Homo sapiens: one gene and its partners. The protein of the gene in region 1 interacts with the protein of each later gene in a biochemical or structural test. Each region holds a gene or a part of one and is shown in the gene's direction. Other genes may lie near its edges.

The links. Proteins that work in one complex are often made in the same cells at the same time.
Region 2: the proteins of YAP1 (region 1) and NHERF2 form a complex in vitro, tested with the Homo sapiens proteins (2 studies listed by IntAct, with this or other methods).
Region 3: the proteins of YAP1 (region 1) and SHANK1 interact in a test that uses a peptide from one of them, tested with the Homo sapiens proteins (2 studies listed by IntAct, with this or other methods).
Region 4: the proteins of YAP1 (region 1) and PTPN14 form a complex in vitro, tested with the Homo sapiens proteins (3 studies listed by BioGRID and IntAct, with this or other methods).

The regions. Positions count from the first base shown.
Region 1 is NC_000011.10:102,217,496-102,222,723, forward strand, and holds part of YAP1 (transcriptional coactivator YAP1), read left to right. Parts: intron 1-5,228. UniProt on the Homo sapiens protein: Transcriptional regulator with dual roles as a coactivator and corepressor. Critical downstream regulatory target in the Hippo signaling pathway, crucial for organ size control and tumor suppression by restricting proliferation and promoting apoptosis.
Region 2 is NC_000016.10:2,024,522-2,029,736, forward strand, and holds the start of NHERF2 (Na(+)/H(+) exchange regulatory cofactor NHE-RF2), read left to right. Parts: upstream 1-2,380; 5' UTR 2,381-2,484; coding exon 2,485-2,697; intron 2,698-3,654; exon of another isoform or gene 3,655-3,675; intron 3,676-5,060; coding exon 5,061-5,215.
Region 3 is NC_000019.10:50,667,768-50,672,335, reverse strand, and holds part of SHANK1 (SH3 and multiple ankyrin repeat domains protein 1), read left to right. Parts: intron 1-221; coding exon 222-318; intron 319-3,050; coding exon 3,051-4,568. UniProt on the Homo sapiens protein: Seems to be an adapter protein in the postsynaptic density (PSD) of excitatory synapses that interconnects receptors of the postsynaptic membrane including NMDA-type and metabotropic glutamate receptors via complexes with GKAP/PSD-95 and Homer, respectively, and the actin-based cytoskeleton.
Region 4 is NC_000001.11:214,370,068-214,374,635, reverse strand, and holds part of PTPN14 (tyrosine-protein phosphatase non-receptor type 14), read left to right. Parts: intron 1-1,796; coding exon 1,797-1,925; intron 1,926-4,568. UniProt on the Homo sapiens protein: Protein tyrosine phosphatase which may play a role in the regulation of lymphangiogenesis, cell-cell adhesion, cell-matrix adhesion, cell migration, cell growth and also regulates TGF-beta gene expression, thereby modulating epithelial-mesenchymal transition.

The DNA.
Region 1 (5,228 bases):
AAAAGGAATGAACTGTGGATATAACATGAATGAATCCCAAGATTATCACACTAAGTGAAAAAGTACATGCTGTATGATTTTATTTTAGAAAATTCTAGAAAATACCGAATAATCTACAATGACAAAAAGCAGATGATTAGCTTCTGAAGGTTGAAGTAGGGGAGGTGAGAAGTAGTGGGAGAAAATTTTGAGGATGATTATCTTTTTTTTTTGAGATGGAGGTTCGTTCTTATTGCCCAGGTTGGAGTGCAATGGCGCAATCTCAGCTACCAGAACCTCTGCCTCCCGGGTTCAAGCGATTCTCCTGCCCCAGCCTCCCAAGTCCTCCCGAGTAGCTTGAATTACAGGCACCTGCCATCACACCCAGCTAATTTTTTGTATTTTTAGTAGAGACGGGGTTTCTCCATGTTGGTCAGGCTGGTCTCGAACTCCCAACCTCAGGTGATCTGCCCACCTCACCCTCCCAAAGTGCTGGGATTACAGGTGTGAGCCACTGCACCCGGCTGAGGATGATTATCTTGATTGTAGTGGCAGCTTCACAGGTGTACACACATGTCAAAACTCATCAATTTATGCACTTTATAATTTATTGTATATCCGTTATATATCAAAAAGCTTTTCAAAATTTACTTGGAATATCTAATCACCTGTAACTAAAAGTTTCAAAACTCAGCTGAGTATTTATACCTTTAGTATGCTATCCATAATCTGCATATATGTTATTTGTATCATTGGCCTTGTTACATTAGAGTCATCCCTTGGGGGATTGGTTCCAGCAAGTCCCTTATATAAAATGGCATGCTATTTGCATATAACCTACACACATCCTCCTGTATACCTTAAATCATTTCTAGATTACTTATAATACAATGGAAATGCTATGTAAAGAGCTGTTACACTGTTATAACTGTGTTGTCATTCTGTATTGGGAATAATGGCAAGAAAAATAGTCTATATATGTTAAGTACAGACACAGCCTTCCATTTTTCTTCTCGAATATTTCGATCCATACTTGGTTGCCTTACGGATATGAAAGGCTAACTATATTTGTTTTCATGCCAAATTCTTCCCTATTTGATTAATAATACACTCCTGCCACCAGTAAGTAAAGTGTCTTTTTTTCATTGATTCTTTCAAGTCTAATTTAGGTGAATCCTTAGGTTAGTTACTGTTAGTCATGGCTCAAATATAGGTTTAATGAGAAGAGTGTTTCCATAGCCCTTCAAGGGGTCGGATATCTCCTTAGGTAACTTGGAATGATTTCCCTGCTTACTGACATCTCTAAGTTATCTTTCTTTATAAATCTGCATAGTTGGTTCTGCAGTGTCTGCTGACATAGAAATTCAGTTGTTAAATGAAGTAAAAAGTAAAAATTTCACGGCTTTTAACAAACATAGTGGCCAAATTCAAAGCAGCAAGAACATGGAGAGTCTAGTCTGCACATGATACTAGTTTTAACCTAATAAAAAGTAGGAATTTTATTTAAAAGGCTAAAATAAAAAGTTGTAAAAATAATATGAAAATTATAGCCAATTCAGTTATTTTAGTTATGACTTACAGTTTAGTGTTATATATTTGTTTTGTGCTACAAACAGGAGCATACCTTCTTTGATAAAAAGCAAATGAGAGTCTTTAGAATATTCTCCAATACTCCCATGTTTGTCACAGAACCCTAGGCATCAGCCTTTTCTGGAGTCTATAATTTTATTCATTTTAAAGTTTATTGTTAAATACATCCTCATATTTTAAGAGCAAAATAAATTCTTCAAGGAATTTTAAGTTGTTTTATGCTCCAGAGTAATTCATTCACTCTGGCCTTAGGGGGTACAGCAAAAATAATTACGATATTTTGTGATAAGTGCTGTGTTCAGGATGTTAAAGACATGACATGTCTGTGTCTAATCCAATCTCAAGATCGAGATGGGATCACCACGGAGAGTTTCTTCAAAAAGGTAGTGCCTTCACCAGGTCTTAAATAATACGGAAGAAAGGCATGGTATTGAGAGGATGTGTCCTCCCACAGACAGACTACAATGAGTGTAGTATCACTGTTTTAAAGTCACTTCTCACTTTGTAAGATGAGCATGGGAGGAGTCAAAAGTAGAAGATAGAAAAGAAATAAGAGGGATCCCCATAAGACTGCAAGAAAAGTTAAAAAGATGATGAGTATAAATGAAGTTACTTTTGAGGCAAGCAGGAAGAGGTGGCAAGAGGGGCCAGAAAAATCAAAGATTATACCTGATGACCTGGTTTTTTTTGTTTGTTTTGTTTTTTGTTTTTTGTTTTGAGACAGAGTCTCGCTCTGTCACCTAGGCTGGAGTGCAGTGGCGCAATCTCAGCTCACTGCAACCTCAGCTTCCTGAGTAGCTGGGACTACAGGCATACGCCACCACGCCTGGCTAATTTTTTTATATTTTCAGTAGAGACGGGGTTTCACCATGTTGGTCAGGCTGGTCTCCAACTCCTGACCTCAAATGATCCGCCCACCTCAGCCTCCCAAAGTGCTGGGATTACAGGCGTGAGCCACCACACCCAGCCAATGGCCTCAGTGTTCTAATGTAGATGGAAAAGAAATAGACATGGACTTCACTGGCTGGGCATGGTGGCTCACGCCTGTAATCCTAACACTTTGGGAGGCCAATCGCTTGAGCTCAGGTGTTAAGACCAGCCTGGGCGACATATAGTGAGACCTTGTCTCTACAAAAAAATTTGGAGGAAGAGAAAAGAAAAGAAATGGACTTCCCTGAATAGGGGCTTGAGATAGTATGCCATATTTGGAGTAGTGACCATGAGGATGTGAAAAACAACTGACCAAGAACAAAACAAAACAAAAAAACCAATAAGTGGTACTAGGGTCCATCCAAAACCAAAGACCTTTAATTTGTAATGATAACATTCTGGATAGTTATGTGATTTCTTTTTTTTCTTTTCCCTTAGCATTTCTCAGCAATCTCAGAATGAAAATGGAACAAATACACTTTGGCATTGCTTTGGGGTTGGGATTTGCTGGGCTGAGATAAAATTATATGTACATCAGGAATCTAAAAGGTGCTTATGCTGTTTTGAATGATCAGTCATGAATTTAAGCTTGTAGGGAAGGAGAAAAAAAAATAAGATACCAAAAGACAGCCAATAGACTAGACTAGTAAGGAGAGATGGGTCTGGAGTCTCTGAGGTTGGAGGGCTGGTAGAGTGGACATGAGTCTATGCAGGAACTGGTTAGAAAAAAATGTGAGAAAGTAAAATAAGTGCATGTAAGATTTTGGGGAGAGAAGTTTCTAAGCCAGTTCTTGGGTATGACTGAGGGAATTAATGATTGAAATACAGTGATGAAGTGGTCAGTATCATTTCGGTGTAAAGGCGATCCCGGCATTTCAACAATGGGTTATTATATGGGTTTTATGCATGGAGGTCATAATTCCAATGTGATGAATGCAGTTGGAATGAAGAGAAACACTGATCATCGTCTCAAAACATGACTTAAGATTTTAGAGTTGGTTTGGTTTCAAATAACAGGATCTTAGTGGCTGTGCAATGGGTGTTTGAGTGGAGTGGAGATGAAGGTCACTGGAATCCAGAAGGTTCAGGAAGCTGTCAGGTTAAGTGAATTGTCCATTTAATACTGAAGCATGTTAAGAGGCATGGAGAATACTTGGAGTGGCAAGAGGCTTTGACCAGACTCCAGAATTTTCCCGTATATAAGATGGAGTAACGAAGAGATCAGTAAATTTGAGTACAAGAAGCAGTTTACCTTGCAGGGAAGACAGGCAAACAATTTTGGCATTTGGCCAAGTCCCTAGGTTCCCTCTCAGGACATTGGTGTTTGTTTTTTTTTAAAGTACAGGATTGAAAAGAAAAGGAATTTCATTGATACAGTTAAGAAAATATTAAATAGAAACTTGTGATATAACGTGCTTCTTTTTAATGTATAAATAACAAGATCTAAGGCTGGGTGCAGTGGCCTATGCTTGTAATGCCAGCACTTTGGGCGGCCAAGGAGGGTAGATCATCTGAGCCTGGGAGATTGAGACCAGCTGGGCAACATGGCAAAACCCTGTCTCTACAAAAATACAAAAAATTAGCTGGGTATGGTGGTGTGCCTCTGTGGCTGCAGCTACTCATGAGGCTGAGGCAGGAGGATCACTTGAGCCTAGAAGGTCAAGGCTGCAGTGAGCTATAATTGCATCACTGCATTCCAGATTGGGTGACAGAGTGAGACCCTGTCTCAAAAAGATTAAAAAAAAAAAAAATCTAGAAGCACATCTTATAACGTAACTACTGTAGCATTGAAATAGCAATGATCATAAATGGTATTTTAAAATATTTGCAACAACTACAATGTGATATGAAAACATTTATATGTTCTATTGGTGAAAAGTTAGGTACAGTGAATACTAATGGTGCATACTACATTGGAGAAAATGTTGACAAATTTAGCGAAAGTTAATGTGTAATTTTTTTTTTTTTACCCCATTGAAGTTCAGAGACTCTCTGAATTCTGTCATGGTCCGCTGGTTAAGAAACTCTGGTTTAAAGGATGGTATATCCAGAAGGCATAAACCTAAAGAAAAATAAGTGGTATTTGCATGCAGGAGAATTGTAGTTTAGAAGTGGCAGCGTAGAGCTAGGAGAAGCTTTCCATACTTCAGGACCCCATGGCGATTGTGGAGGTGAGGGCTGGAGATGGTGGGGCCGTGCCTCAGTGAGCAGACTTGGCTCAGAAAGCTGTGTGGAAGGATGACGGAGTCAGGCCAGTATCCTTTGTGATAAGAAACTGTATGTATTTCAAATCAAACCCAAAAAGTAGAGGGAAAGAAAGCTGATGGTCTAGTAGAGATGATGTTTACGATAGGTGGAGAGGCACAGTGAAAATTCTTAGGAGGGTAAGAAACAGTGAACAGATAAAGGAGAGAAAAAGGACAGAGTAGTAATGAGTGTGCTACGGATGGGTCACAGTGAGATGAACTGTTTTTGAGGTCCTGGGCAAATACAGGCTGAAACCTGGGAGGTTTGGAAGCCCTTGAAGGCAGGCCTTCTGCAACCATCAGAGTAGCAACCTACAGCCTTTGCTCAGGTTTACAGGGAGAATCCTGCTGAGAAATTGTTGGATGACCCTGAAGAAATTTTACCCCATTTTAAATATTATGTTTGTGGTGGAGAAGCCTTGGGTTTGTGTTTTAACTTCTGATGTCTTTTTTTCATTTTCCTCCTCTCTCCCTGCTAGAGGA
Region 2 (5,215 bases), on another chromosome or scaffold:
TGTTAACTCTGTAGCAGCAGTGTGTCCGGTGATATTTCCTTGGTTCCTGGCCCTGGTTGTGACCTCATGTCCCTTGTGGCCCCTCCCTCTGCCATGCTGTTCTCCATCCCATCTTTTTTTTTTTATTTGTTTTTAAATTATTTATTTATTGTTTTTGAGATGGTGTCTAGCTCTGTTGCCCAGGCTGGAGTGCAGTGACGCAATCTCAGCTCACTGCAACCTCCGCCTCCTGGGTTCAAGCGATTCTCCTGCCTCAACCTCCCCAGTAGCTGGGATTACAGATGCCCACCACCACGCCTGGCTAATTTTTTTTGTATTTTCAGTAGAGACGGGGTTTCGCCACATTGGCCAGGCTGGTCTCGAACTCCTGACCTCAGGTGATCCACCCACCTCGGCCTCCCAGAGTGTTGGGATTACAGGCGTGAGCCACTGCTCCGGCCCCTCAGCCCATCTTCAGTCACTGGGAGTAGGAATCAGCTGAGTCCTGGGCCAGGGAAGGATGGTGTATGCCCAAGGCTGATCAGGCGTCTGCCCCACCCAGGGCGGGTAAGGTCTGCAAGCCCCCTTACCCAGGGGACCTGGGGCTGCTGGAGTCTCCCATCCAGCCACCTCCCTCGACTCTAGTGTGGCCAGGAAGCTACAGCCTGCCAGGTTTTGGGTGGACCTGGTTGGTGTGGGATGACCCCCTAAGCCCAAACAGGTGTGGTATGTGGGGTGCGTGGTGGTGGGTCACACTGCCCACAGCCATCTTCACAGACTCCAAGGGTGGCAGCACCAGGCTGTGTCCAGGGAGGCCAGCCACAGGCCAGACAGGCAGCCTCTGGACATGCAGACAGAGAGATGGAAGCGGCCGGCCGGGCGGGAGCCTGAAGCAGCCTTACCCAGGAATTGCAGGGGTTGGGGTGGCGAGCAGTCGCGGCGCCTCAGCCTAAGTGGCTTTTAGGGGCAGCTGCCGGGATATGGGCACCCAGGGGGCCATGGCCCAGGAGGCTGCCCAGAGGCGAGCCCTGTGCTTGGGTGGGGGCAGGGGAGCCCAGCCCAGGGCCCCGGAGAGACGAGAGGGAGAGGAGGACTGCGCCAAGCCTGCTTCTACGGCTCACATGGGGAATTGCCTGGGCTGGCTGTGCCTGACCCCTGGGAACCAGGTATGTGCAAGGGGGCCTGGCTGGGCTGGGGAGGAGGGCAGACTGGGGCTGTGCCTGGACTCAGCTACCTTCCTATATTGGAGACAGAGGAAGAGCTGGGTGGTGAAGATAGCATGGACTCCGAATCTCACATCCCTGGGCCCAAATGGAGCTGAGGAGGCTTCGTGGGTCTTTTCCCTCTCCAGGCCTGTTTGCAGGTCTGTGAAGTGGCCGGTCCCCTAGGGTTGTTCCAGGTAAAATGCACTTAGGCCTAAATGATTTCACTGTGGTGGTGACTGTCCTGTTGGGGAAGGAGGGACACTCGTGCTTCAGGTAGAGGCTGAGGGACGTGGACGGCTGTGGGCAGGGGAGGGGAGGCCTGCTGCCTGCCTGTGGACACTGTGGAGCAGCGCCTGTGCACACCCAGAGCTTAGAGCCCAAATAATTCAGTGGAGTGTAGCCCATGTCAGGAGGTGGGTAGCAGGGACCCTCGAGACTCATATCCTTTTGTCACCCTGCAAAGTCACAGTCCAGGCCTGGGGTGGGCTGGGACACAAGTGAGGGGGCCGGCCCGGCCAAGGGAAAGAATGGCAGCAGGGCGTGGGAACCGACGCGGTGCAGATAGGCCGAACACGGTGGGTAGGCCAGGGAGTCTCCCAGCCACTGGCCCCCAGGATGCAGGGAGGGGCTGCTGCGTGTCACTTTTAAAGCCCTTTTTGCCTCCTGGGCCCTCCTGAGACTCTGCCCTGGGCCAGGGAGTCTCCCAGCCACTGGCTGGGAGGGATCCAGGTGAGACACAGCCGAGAGGAGACAGGCAAGGGGGTCCGGAAGGGCTTCCCGGGGAGGGTGGGGAGGGCTGTGGCCCTTGTTCTTACCCTTTGGCCCCTTTGTCGGGGTCCCTTGGCCTGGAGACCCTTTGTCCAACCCGTCGCCCACCTCAAGACCTGCCTCGATGCTGCGCATACAGTAGGTATCCAATAAATGTTCCTGGGATAGAAGGCAAAGGCGCTGGCACCAAGGCGGCTGCCCAGAGTAGGGGCGAGACAGAGAGGTCCCGGTGGTTAAGGGGTCCCCTAGCCCTGCCGCCTCCCCCTGCCCCGCCTCGGGCTGGCCGGGCGCGGAGGTAGGGGCCTGGCCGGGACGGCTGGGACTGGAGGCGGGGGCGGCCGGGCGGCGGGGGCGGGGAAGGGGCGGGCGCGGAGGCGGTGCCGCAGCCCGAGCCGGAGCCCGAGCCGGATCCCGAGGCGACGGGAGCCGAACAGGAGCCGCCGCTGAAGCCACCGCCGGGTGCCCAGCGCCGCCGCCGCCCCCGAGCTCCCCCGCGCCCCTGCCCGCGGGCGGCCGGTGGGCAGCGGGCGCCATGGCCGCGCCGGAGCCGCTGCGGCCGCGCCTGTGCCGCTTGGTGCGCGGAGAGCAGGGCTACGGCTTCCACCTGCACGGCGAGAAGGGCCGCCGCGGGCAGTTCATCCGGCGCGTGGAACCCGGTTCCCCCGCCGAGGCCGCCGCGCTGCGCGCTGGGGACCGCCTGGTCGAGGTCAACGGCGTCAACGTGGAGGGCGAGACGCACCACCAGGTGGGGGCCAGCGCTCGCCCCCGGCCCGCCGCCCCCTCCCCGAGCGCGTCCCCCTGGGGCGAGCAGGGGTCGCACGGGGGCCCGAGGGGGCTCCCGCGGGGAGGACGCGGACGTTGTCGGGAGGCAGCGGCCCGGCGCCTTCGGAGTCCCGGCGCAGGAAGCTCAGTCCTGCACGGGGGTGGGGGGGGGCATCCTGGCAGGGAGGGGCCCGCACTGCGGCTCCTGGCCGCTGGCCTCGCCCTTTGGTCGCGTTTTGGCCTCAGTGTGCCGTGAAGGAGGGTGTTGGGCCGCCTGGAGCCCCTCCGGAAAGGTGAAGACCTGGGTGCTTTTGCCTGGGTGTGTGTGTACACGTGTGCGTGTGAACACAGCTGGGCGTGTGTATGCAGGTCCCTTTGGGGTCAGCCATGTGTGCATGCGCCTGCCTGTGCGTACCCAGGAGGGGTCGCAGTAAAGGCATCAGTGTGTCTGCACCTGTGTGTGCTGTAGTGTGTGTGTGAGTATACAGGTCTGCACGTGTGCCTGTGTGTGTGCAGGTCTGGACTCCTGGGCGTATGGGAGCTGGGCTCTGTGTGTGTGCACGCCTGGCTAGTGTACTCATCACTGTCTGCAGGCCGGTGAGTCTTTGTGTCTGTACTCTAGTGTGTCCCAGCTGGTGTGTCTGGGACCGGGCTGAGTTGGTCATTGCTGGCAACCACATTCCTTAGCTACAAAGGCACTACTCCTCCTCAGAGGCTGCCTAGCCTGGCTGGGGTTACTGGCCGAAGCCTCCTGCCTCCTGGCTAAGGAGAACAGAGCCTTTTCTCTGTGGGTTCTGACCCCTGAGGTGTGTCTGTCTCCCACAGGCCAGGGACTCCCTCCAGACCCTGGTTGGGGTCCAGCGTCCACACACCCCTTTTCCTCCAGGTCCCCTGTCCCTCACAGCACCGATGAATCCATAACCTGTCTACATGGCTGGTCCTGGAACCTAGAGATTAGCAGGTTGGTTCAGCTGGACCTGGAGCTGGTCTCCTGTTTACCTGGTGCCTTGTCTGTCACTCTGTCGGCCGGCCCCATGCCTTCCACCCAGAGTGTCTGCTGTGTAAGGTTGTTTGCTGAAGAATGTGGGGATCAGGCCAGGGGCCTGGACCTGAGGGATTGAGGGTAGGGCTGCCAGGGCTGGGGCCAGGCTGCTGTTGGATAGTCACTGCCACCCTCGCCCTGGGAACACCTGCTTTTCCAAGGCCCTGTGGGGCTGGTCTCTGAGGACTGGACACACAGACCATGGTGGACTCTCCCCACTGCCCCAGGAGGGCAAGAGGGGCAGTTACTGCCCCATTTGACAGTTGAGGAAACTGATGCCAGAGATTGAGGGTAACTTGTCTGGGACACATAGTCAAGAAGCAGCTGGGCACTGGGTTCCTCTTGTCTCACTCTGGGTCATGGGGAGAGAGGAGGGCTGGGGGAAGATGGGCCTGGCTCAGTCCCTCCTATCTGTTCACCACCCCTGCTGAGCCCGGCAGCTGGTGGGGAGCCTTGTCCACCCTCCCCCAGGCCGCAGGTGGGAGTAGGGCTGCCCCTCTTCCTGCCCACTTCCCAGTGGGCACTGCTTTCTCTCCGCGGGTGTGCGCTGGCCCCCCGCGTGGTCCAGACACTTCACAGGCACCTGCACGCACACACCGACGGCCACCAAGCCACAGCTGTCCACAGGTGCACCTGCCTCTCCCCCTCGCCGGCTGCACCTGAATCCTGCTTCCCTGGCTGTGTGTGGGTGCCCGAGCCAGGAGCCCAGCCCTTCCCCTCTCTGCAGATCCAGAGGGAATGGGCCCATGGCCATGGCCTGGAGGTAGATATAAGGCCTAGGGTCAGGAGTTTAGACTCCCACACTGCACGGCAGAGAATGACGGGAATGGGCACAGACACACTCAAACTGGGGCCCAGGGAGACACACCTCTCCTTCAAACCTGGACGGAGACACAGACTTTGAAACAGATGGATGCATGCGCGCACAGGGACAGGCAGACTGAAAACCTGAAGGTCCACTGTGCACCATTTTTGTCACTTCCAGACAGGACTTACCCAGCGGCCCTATCCTGCAGCCCCTTCCCAGCCCCGCCTGGAGAAGACCCTGGGCTAAGGGCAAGGCTCTGGGAGCACCCTGAAGCCCTCACAGCCTGGGCCTCAGTGTCCGGAGCCTGAGTGCAGAGGGAGGGAGCCGCTGGAGTCCGGGGGTGGGGGGCGGGGCCGGCAGGCCTCTTGGTGCAGCCACCCGCCCATGCAGACCAGCCGCCTGTCCGCACGCCTGGGCCAGCCCAGAGTGGTGCCACTGCCCATGTGCTGCCCGGAATGTGGGCCACTGACCCGCTCCTATCGCCCATTCGCCCCAGGTGGTGCAAAGGATCAAGGCTGTGGAGGGGCAGACTCGGCTGCTGGTGGTGGACCAGGAGACAGATGAGGAGCTCCGCCGGCGGCAGCTGACCTGTACCGAGGAGATGGCCCAGCGAGGGCTCCCACCCGCCCACGACCCCTGGGAGCCGAAGCC
Region 3 (4,568 bases), on another chromosome or scaffold:
GACCTCAGGTGATCCTCCTGCCTCAGCCTCCCAAAGTGCTGGGATTACAGGCGTGAGCCACGTTGCCCGGCCTCCTTCCACCGTCTTCACACTGCTCTCCCTTACGGCAGGGGCTTAGGGAAGGAATGGGGGCAGCCGTATAGTGAAGCCACAAGCCTTTCTGCGCTGACTGATCTCTCTCTATCTTTTCTCTCTCTCCCCCTCTGACTGCCGCTCCAAAGTCGAGCTTCGATCCCCACCACCGTGCCCAGCCAAGTTACGAGCGTCCTTCTTTCCTGCCTCCAGGACCTGGGTTGATGCTCCGGCAAAAATCTATCGGTATGCCACCCAGAAGAAGAGATGTGGGGGCTGGGGGAGGCCAGGAACGTGACAGTTCAGGAAAAGCAAGCAGACTTGGAAATGTTCTGTGCTCCCAGAGAGACCATAGTTTCATCAAATTGGGTTAAGAGTTCAGGCTTTGGAAATGGGTGAACTTGGCCATGAATCCTGGCTCCCCTCCTTCCCAGCTGTGTGAACTGGGGCAGGTGGCTTGACTTCTCTGGGCCTCTGGCTCTACATCTGGAGAATGGGGATGCAGTGAGCTAAAGCCCCCGCTACAGCTTTCTGGTTGTTTCTCTTATACCCGATTCCATCCATTCATTCATTTTACAAGTGTTTACCAAGCGCTCCCCACATGCCAGGAATTGTTCTAGAATGGGGATACGTCAGCGAATAAAACAGACTAAAGGTTCCTGCCCTCATGGGCTTGCCTTATAGCAGGGGAAGACAGATAATGGATTATAAGGAAAATAAGCAAGAAAATTATCTAGTATGTTAGCAGTTGTACGTGCTATGGAAAACAAAAAAAAGAGTGGGCCGGGCGCAGCGGCTCACGCCTGTAATCCCAGCACTTTGGGAGGCCGAGGCAGGCAGATCACAAGGTCAGGAGATCGAGACCATCCTGGTTAACATGGTAAAATCCCATCTCTACTAAAAATACAAAAAATTAGCCGGGTGTGGTGGCGGGCACCTGTAGTCCCAGCTACTCAGGAGGCTGAGGCAGGAGAATGGCGTGAACCCGGAAGGCAGAGCTTGCAGTGAGCCGAGAACGTGCCACTGCACTCCAGCCTGGGCGACAGAGCAACCCTCTGTCTCAAAAAAAAAAAAAAAAAAAAAGAGTGAAAAAAAATAATGGAGTAAGGTAAGAGAGATAGGGAGTGCTGGGTAGGGGGCAGGGTGCAGGTTTGAGCTAAAACCTATAGATGGGCCAGGCACAGTGGCTCACACGTGTAATCCCAGCACTTTGGGAGGCCGAGGCAGGCGGATCACAAGGTCAGGAGTTCAAGACCAGCCTGACCAACATGATGAAACCCCATTTCTACTAAAAATACAAAAATTAGCCAAGCGTGGTGGCATGTGCCTGTAATCCCAGCTACTCAGGAGGCTGAGGCAGGAGAATAGCTTGAACCCGAGAGGCAGAGGTTGCAGTGAGCAAAGATCGCACCATTGCACTCCAGCCTGGGCGACAGAGCGAGACTCTGTCTCAAAAAAAAAGAAAAGAAAAAAAAACACCTAGAGATGAAGTGGGGAATCGTGAGGCTCCCTGGGGTTGAGGCATTCCAGGCAGAGCGAACTACCTCTGCAAAGGTCCTGAGGTCGGGCTGAGTCTGGTGCGTTTACAGAACAGGGAGGAGGCCTGTGTAGCAGGGGCCAAGTGAGCACTGGACATGAGGGCAGTGGGGGGACAGGGTCCCGATCCTGCAGGGTCTGGGGAGTCATGGTGAGGACTTGAACCTTTGCCCTGAGTGAGGTGAGTGAATGGCAGGGCTCTAAGCAGAGGAGGGACATGAGCTGACTTCGGTTTTAACAGAAACCCTCTGGCTGCTGTGAAGGGACTAGATTGAAGGGGATGAGCTGGGAAGCCGGGGGACCAAAGAGGAGGTGACAGCTATTGCTATCCAGATAGGAAATGATAGTGGCTGGCCCAGGGTGTTGACTCTGGAGGGGTGAGAAGGGATTGGATTCCGGATATGTTTTGAAACAACAGGATTTGCTGGTGGATTGGATGTGGGTGACTTGAGGAAGAAAGCTAAGAGTGGCTGCAAGGTTTTCAGTCTTAGCACCTGAAAGGACAGAGCTGCTGTTTGCTGCGGTGGTGGGGAGGGACCGTGGGCTGGGAGGAGTCTGTTGGTGAGGAGATCAGGAGCTTGGGTTGGAGCGTTTGGAGTCTGAGATGCCCGTGAGACAGCCAGCTGGGTGTGGGTATTTGAATATAGGGGCCCAGAGCTCAGGGCGGAGGATGGGGCCCCAGGCATAAACGTGGGCGTCGACAGCAGAAAGGCAGTGAATGAAGCTGGTCACTAGTTGAGAGGGAGTAGTCAGAGGTGAGAAGAGGTTCAAAGACCGAGCCTTGGCAGTGAAGTAAGCAAAGACTTAACTCCTGCACGCCTCCTGGAGTTGTTTTTCCCTGATTGGATTCAGCTTTCCCCAACTCCTGGCGTTCAAAGTCCACCAGTGTGAGTCTTACACTCCCACTGAGTGTGGGGTCCACCTGGCTCGCATCGTTTACCTGATTTTTTTTTTTATAGATCCAATCCCTTTTAAACTTTAGCCTCATCATAAGTGGTTCTCTCTGTAGAATCACAGCTTTGATGTGCTGGTTGCATTTCTTTCCCGCATATACGTGAAAAGAAACACGCATCTATGCATAAACACGAGGGGACTATCCCTTCCCAGCTCCAGCCACTTTTGCTGGCCCCAAACCGTTCACTGAGCCTTTGAACGGAATTAGAAAATGGCGCCCCCTCCTGGCGTGGGGAGGAAGTTCTGCTGAATTTCAGTTTCCTCACCTTCCTTGCGGTTTGCAGTTGTGCAGTGCACAACCTGTACCTCTGTATGAAGCAGATTTGGGTTTACCTCAAATAGGGAAGAGCTGGGCGAGTCCACGTGAAGTTCCTGGCATATACGGGGTGCCATTCTTGTCATTAGTATTGTTGCGGTTCTATGGGATAGTGGAGCAGGGAGACCCTCCCCGCCAGGGTCCCCCTCCTTGAGCCTCTGTATCTCCCCAGGTGCGGCAGAAGATGACAGACCTTACCTAGCACCCCCAGCCATGAAATTCAGCCGCAGCCTGTCTGTGCCTGGTTCGGAGGACATTCCCCCGCCACCCACCACGTCCCCACCGGAGCCTCCCTACAGCACACCTCCAGTCCCCTCCTCCTCAGGGCGCCTCACCCCCTCCCCTCGGGGAGGGCCCTTCAACCCTGGCTCTGGTGGCCCCCTCCCCGCCTCCTCCCCTGCATCCTTTGACGGGCCCTCCCCTCCCGACACTCGCGTGGGGAGCCGCGAGAAGAGCCTGTACCACAGTGGGCCCCTGCCCCCGGCCCACCACCACCCGCCCCACCACCACCACCACCACGCCCCGCCCCCTCAGCCCCACCACCACCACGCCCACCCCCCTCATCCTCCCGAGATGGAGACAGGCGGCTCTCCCGACGACCCTCCACCCCGCCTGGCTCTGGGGCCCCAGCCCAGCCTGCGAGGCTGGAGGGGCGGCGGGCCCAGCCCGACCCCGGGGGCCCCGTCCCCATCGCACCACGGCAGCGCGGGCGGGGGCGGCGGCTCCTCCCAGGGCCCGGCTCTACGCTATTTCCAGCTGCCCCCGCGGGCGGCCAGCGCAGCCATGTACGTGCCCGCCCGCTCGGGCCGCGGCCGCAAGGGCCCGCTGGTCAAGCAGACCAAGGTGGAAGGCGAGCCCCAGAAGGGCGGCGGCCTCCCGCCCGCGCCGTCGCCCACGTCCCCGGCCTCCCCGCAGCCGCCGCCCGCCGTGGCCGCGCCCTCGGAGAAGAACTCCATCCCCATCCCCACCATCATCATCAAGGCCCCGTCCACCAGTAGCAGCGGCCGCAGCAGCCAGGGCAGCAGCACCGAGGCGGAGCCCCCCACCCAGCCGGAGCCCACGGGAGGCGGCGGCGGCGGCGGCTCCTCGCCCAGCCCCGCCCCGGCCATGTCACCCGTGCCCCCGTCCCCCTCGCCCGTGCCCACCCCCGCCTCGCCCAGCGGCCCGGCCACGCTGGACTTCACGAGCCAGTTCGGGGCCGCCCTGGTGGGGGCGGCCCGGAGGGAGGGGGGCTGGCAGAATGAGGCGCGCCGGCGCTCCACGCTGTTCCTGTCCACCGACGCGGGGGACGAGGACGGCGGGGACGGCGGGCTGGGCACAGGGGCGGCCCCGGGCCCGCGGCTGCGCCACTCCAAATCCATCGACGAGGGCATGTTCTCCGCCGAGCCCTACCTCCGACTGGAGTCTGCGGGCAGCGGCGCGGGCTACGGCGGCTACGGGGCCGGTAGCCGAGCCTACGGGGGTGGCGGGGGCAGCAGCGCCTTCACCAGCTTCCTGCCCCCGCGACCCCTGGTGCACCCGCTGACCGGCAAGGCCCTGGATCCCGCCTCCCCGCTGGGGCTGGCCCTGGCCGCCCGCGAGCGAGCGCTGAAGGAGTCCTCGGAGGGCGGCGGGGCCCCCCAGCCGCCTCCCAGGCCCCCATCGCCCCGCTACGAGGCCCCGCCGCCCACCCCGCACCACCACTCGCCCC
Region 4 (4,568 bases), on another chromosome or scaffold:
GCCAGTGTTTTCCCCCCTGGGTTCCAAGCAGCCGTTAACACAGAACAGAGATTTATTTGCTCCAGAGGTGGAATCACATGTGTGAAATCTACCTCAGCAGCACTGCTTGTTGTGTTTTTAATGCAGTTTTTAATACCCTTCTGTCAATACTTGGAATATACTGAAAGGCCCCAGGCAGCAGCAGCATTCTCTGGAAGTATTTATGTTTCCTATACGTTGGGTGCCAGAGAGGCTAATGTTTAAAATCACAATTCCACGGATAAACCAAACTCCTAGCCAGCAAATATATGAATGTTATCTCCCACCAGTATTTGGAAAATGGATTTTTCTTGCCAGCTTTGACCTAAACATGCCTTGTGTAATGAGACAATAACTTACATTGTTTTTGTTTGAACCAAGTTAGCATACAGTTTTATCAAATAAATGAGGGGAAAAAGTTTCAAACAATGATTACTTCATTACTTTTTGAACTCTCCAGAGATCTGCATTGTATAGATGTAGAAGGGACCTGACTTTGCAATATCAAGGCACAGACCTGGAAGGGAGAACAGAAAGAATTCCTCCAAAGGCCACCATTTCACCTTGACAGCATGACCTTTAACACTTTGGGTACAACTTCTTATTTATGGTTCTCAGCAGCTAGTATTTATAGCTGTAGAATTATCTTCCCCTGATCACCCTGAGCTGCAGGGGTAATAATTTTATTATCCAAAGTCATGTCATGACTGTAGTTCAGTTGGATGCTGTGGTACTACCAAGGTGAAGCTATTGATAAAATATATGCTGTTGACAAGAGCATTCGTAGCATCTCTGCCGTGCATGGCACCACAGAGCAGCAGTGACAGCAGAGGTTTATGATACACTTCATCTCAGATCCACAGGAGAAAGATAGTGCTCCAAAAGGGATGTTGTTTCATGATCTTTTTTTTTTTTTTTATTGTTTAATTGGATGCCATGAAGCACTGCTTTTCAAACTGGATTACAACACAGTGGTAGAATGTGAAATCAGTTTAGTGGTCATGACCAGGTGTGTGTGTGTGTGTGTGTGTGTGTGTGTGTGTGTGTGTGTGTGTGTGTTTCAATGAAATCGACTAGAAAAGAGAAAAGAATGGAAAGTGTTAGAGTACATTGCACATAGTAAGCAGTAACTATTATTTCTGTAACAAGTAAATCCTAAGTTATACATGTTCATATATATGCATCTATACATGTGTGTATGTGTATGGTTTTTAATAGGCACTAGTTTGCATATACTGTGAGTTGCAAACAAAGATCAGGTAAAGGCCAAGCCTGGTGGCTCAGGCCTGTAATCCCAGCACTTTGGGAGGCTGAGATGGGCGTATCACCTGAAGTCAGGAGTTCAAGACCAGCCTGGCCAATGTGGTGAAACGCCATCTCTACAAAAATACAAAAATTAGCCGGGCATGATGGCGAGTGCCTGTAATCCCAGCTCCTTGGGATTCTGAGACGGGAGAATTGCTTGAACCCAGGAGGCGGAGGTTGCAGTGAGCCAAGATCGTGCCACTGTACTCCCGCCTAAGCAGCAGAGCAAGACTCAGTCTCAAAAACCAGGATTAGATAAATATTTAATAGGCTTGAGTGGCAAAAAGTATTTTCATGTGAGAATGTGTCACTACACTAGCCTCTGTAGTCTCAGGGTTTTTGTTCATTGAACTAATTCATTCGGCCCCAAAAATATATCCAAGGTTTTAAGGTGGATACAGATGGACAGGTGATCAGCAGGTAATGTTGTCCGGACTTGGGGTTTATTTACCGATACTTTTCTTGGTTTTTAGGTGGTGGTTGGCGGGGCAGAATGGCACTACATAGCCACCCAGGGGCCCCTGCCACACACGTGCCACGACTTCTGGCAGATGGTGTGGGAGCAGGGAGTGAATGTGATTGCCATGGTCACTGCAGAGGAGGTAAGGGGAATGGCCTACTCCACATCCTTTTTCCCCAGGGGAAAGGGTGGCCAGAAGATGGGCTTTGTGCTGTCAACTTTGCTACCCTATCCTTCTTCCTGCAGTGCTGTTTCTCTGCACATGCTTTTCTCTTTGGTATACATCTGTTTTCTTACTTCCAGATAGATATTTTTTCCCCTGGAGATAATTGATTGTTGTAGCTTTTCCTCCTCCCATTTTCATCTGGCTTTTAACTCTTTTCCTTGGATTGTAATGCACTAAACTGAAAATAAAACAACAGAAAACCAAAAATGACAGACTTTAGTTCAACCTGCTGACTTTCTGTGCCAAACGAAAACAGTGATCTTTCCACTGGAATTTGGGAGTCTCAGGCTGCTCTGGGCAAATCGACATAGACGCCCAACTCCAGGCACCCAGCTCCACATGCCATCATCCTTATCAGCTGAAAAGAGACCAGAAGCCGTTGTTCCTGGAGAGTCCTCTGTTCTTTGGGGGAAGAAAAAATATCTTTTTCTTCTTTTGCCAAGCCAAACATAGTTTTTCTGCTGTAACTAGAGAACTCTATGTGATGTTATAAAAAACCAGCCTACACTGCCAGTCAATCCAGTCGGTGTTGAGCTTGCTGTCTTTGTGGGGAGAAGTGTTGTATTTCTTCTCTTGTCACATTCTCAAAATTTCTTTAACCACCTTCTTTTATTTCTTTCATTAAATTCCAATTTATGTTTTGAAATCATTCAAGGGACTAGTTTCATGTGTGTTTACCAATATCCATGGTATTGCAGTGGCCTTTCCTAGCTATGTTAAAGGGGTCAGGAACAAAGAAAATTGGGGAGGAAAAAGTCATATTTTCCTTCATTGACTGTGTTGAGCATTTGCTTCTCAGCACAGTCCATTAGAAGAAAATAATGAAAGGGACATCAGGCTCTTTAAAGCCAGTTGTACTTCCCTGGGCTGACCTGTTTGACCTTCCCACAAAGAGAATGAATCCTCCTTAAAGCTTCTAGAATAGATTTATCACCTTATCAGCTCACACCATTGCAAGGCATTCATTCACCTAAATACAGCATACCATCTGTGCTAACTTCAGGAGTACACGGTAAACGAGACAGGCACCATCCCTGTCCCCATAGAGCTTATGTCCTAGTGGGAGGGACATTCAAAAGTGAACAGATAAAATCAGTGCAGATAGCAGTAAGTGCCGTGGCAGAAATGGAAAACTATAGTCCAGAGTGGGTCTGGGTGAGTACAGGTCCTCCTGCCTCATCCCTCCTCCTCTTTGTGTGGGTTTCAGCTGCAAAACTGTCATTCACGCTAGGGGACTCCTACTAAAGGGTGGCTTCACGATGTGCAACCCTGAGCTCCAGGCTCTGTATCATGTTGCACACTTGCTGGAAGGCTGGAAGTAAAAACCTTATTAATAGTAGCATAAATTCAAGGGAGAAAATTTTTAAAAATGGAAAAAGGGTTAAGAAAGAGAGTGACTGGGGTCTACTTTAGATCAGGGGGGTGGCCAAGGACCCTCTGAGGGAGTGGCATTGGAGGTGAGACCGGAGTGACAAGGAGCCAGCCTTGCCAAGACAAAGTAGCATCTAGTAATCTGTGGGACAGCTGGGGACTTATAGTCTTTTAAAATCCATAACTGATTTAGACACTCAGCAGAAATGTAAATTCGAGGTAAATCTGCTTTCACAGGATTGGTAAATAAAAGAGGAAGGTATGCTTCCAATTTAAGGAGACTCAATTAAACCAAATGAAGCCAGGCAAGGTAATTTACATATTCCGCAAAGATGTGTTGCTTTACAAGTGGGCTTTACAAGAGGAACTCTAATGTTCCTGTAAACAGCCATCAGGGTTCCCAGAGCCTGTCACCACTGCAGCTGTATGTGTTCAGTGCTCCTTCTCTCTCACCACCTACTCCTTGCCCTGAATCTCCTCAGCTACCACCTCCTCCACACTCCGCCCCTTCTCCAGAGATTTTAAAACGGTGCAAAGCTGAAACATAGACCTTGTGTAAATGGTTGAGAATACATATTCTCAGAAAAGTTTATAAAATCAAGGGAGAAAGAATGGTGATGTAAGCAGCTGTTCTCAGTTCTAGTTGTAGATTGAACTAAAACGCATTGGTCAGGCTGAAACAAATGTGAAATCGACACTAGATAAAGACAGCATCGGTAGTCAGTGTGCTGTAACAGAAAGAGCTGTGCGCTGAACATCCGAAAGGAGTAACGTGACCTACAGCGATTGCTGGAACCCCTTCCCGCCTTGTTTAAAACCTTTGAATGACTTCCCGTGCCCATGGGATGAAATCCAAACTTTCCACCATGGACTGTGAGGCCTTTCCAGTCTCCTCTCTGATCGCCTGGCCCCTCACATGTCACACTCCAGCCACCCCGAAGACCTTCGTTTCTTTTTTCTTTTTTTTTTTTTTTTGAGATGGAATCTCCCCTCTGTTGCCCAGGCTGGGGTGCAGTGGCGTGATCTTGGCTCACTGCAAGCTCCGCCTCCCGGGTTTATGCCATTCTCCTGCCTCAGCCTCCCCAGCAGCTGGGACTACAGGCACCCGCCACCGCGCCTGGCTAATTGTTTGTATTTTTAGTAGAGATGGGGTTTCACCATGTTAGCCAGGATGGTCTCGATCTCCTG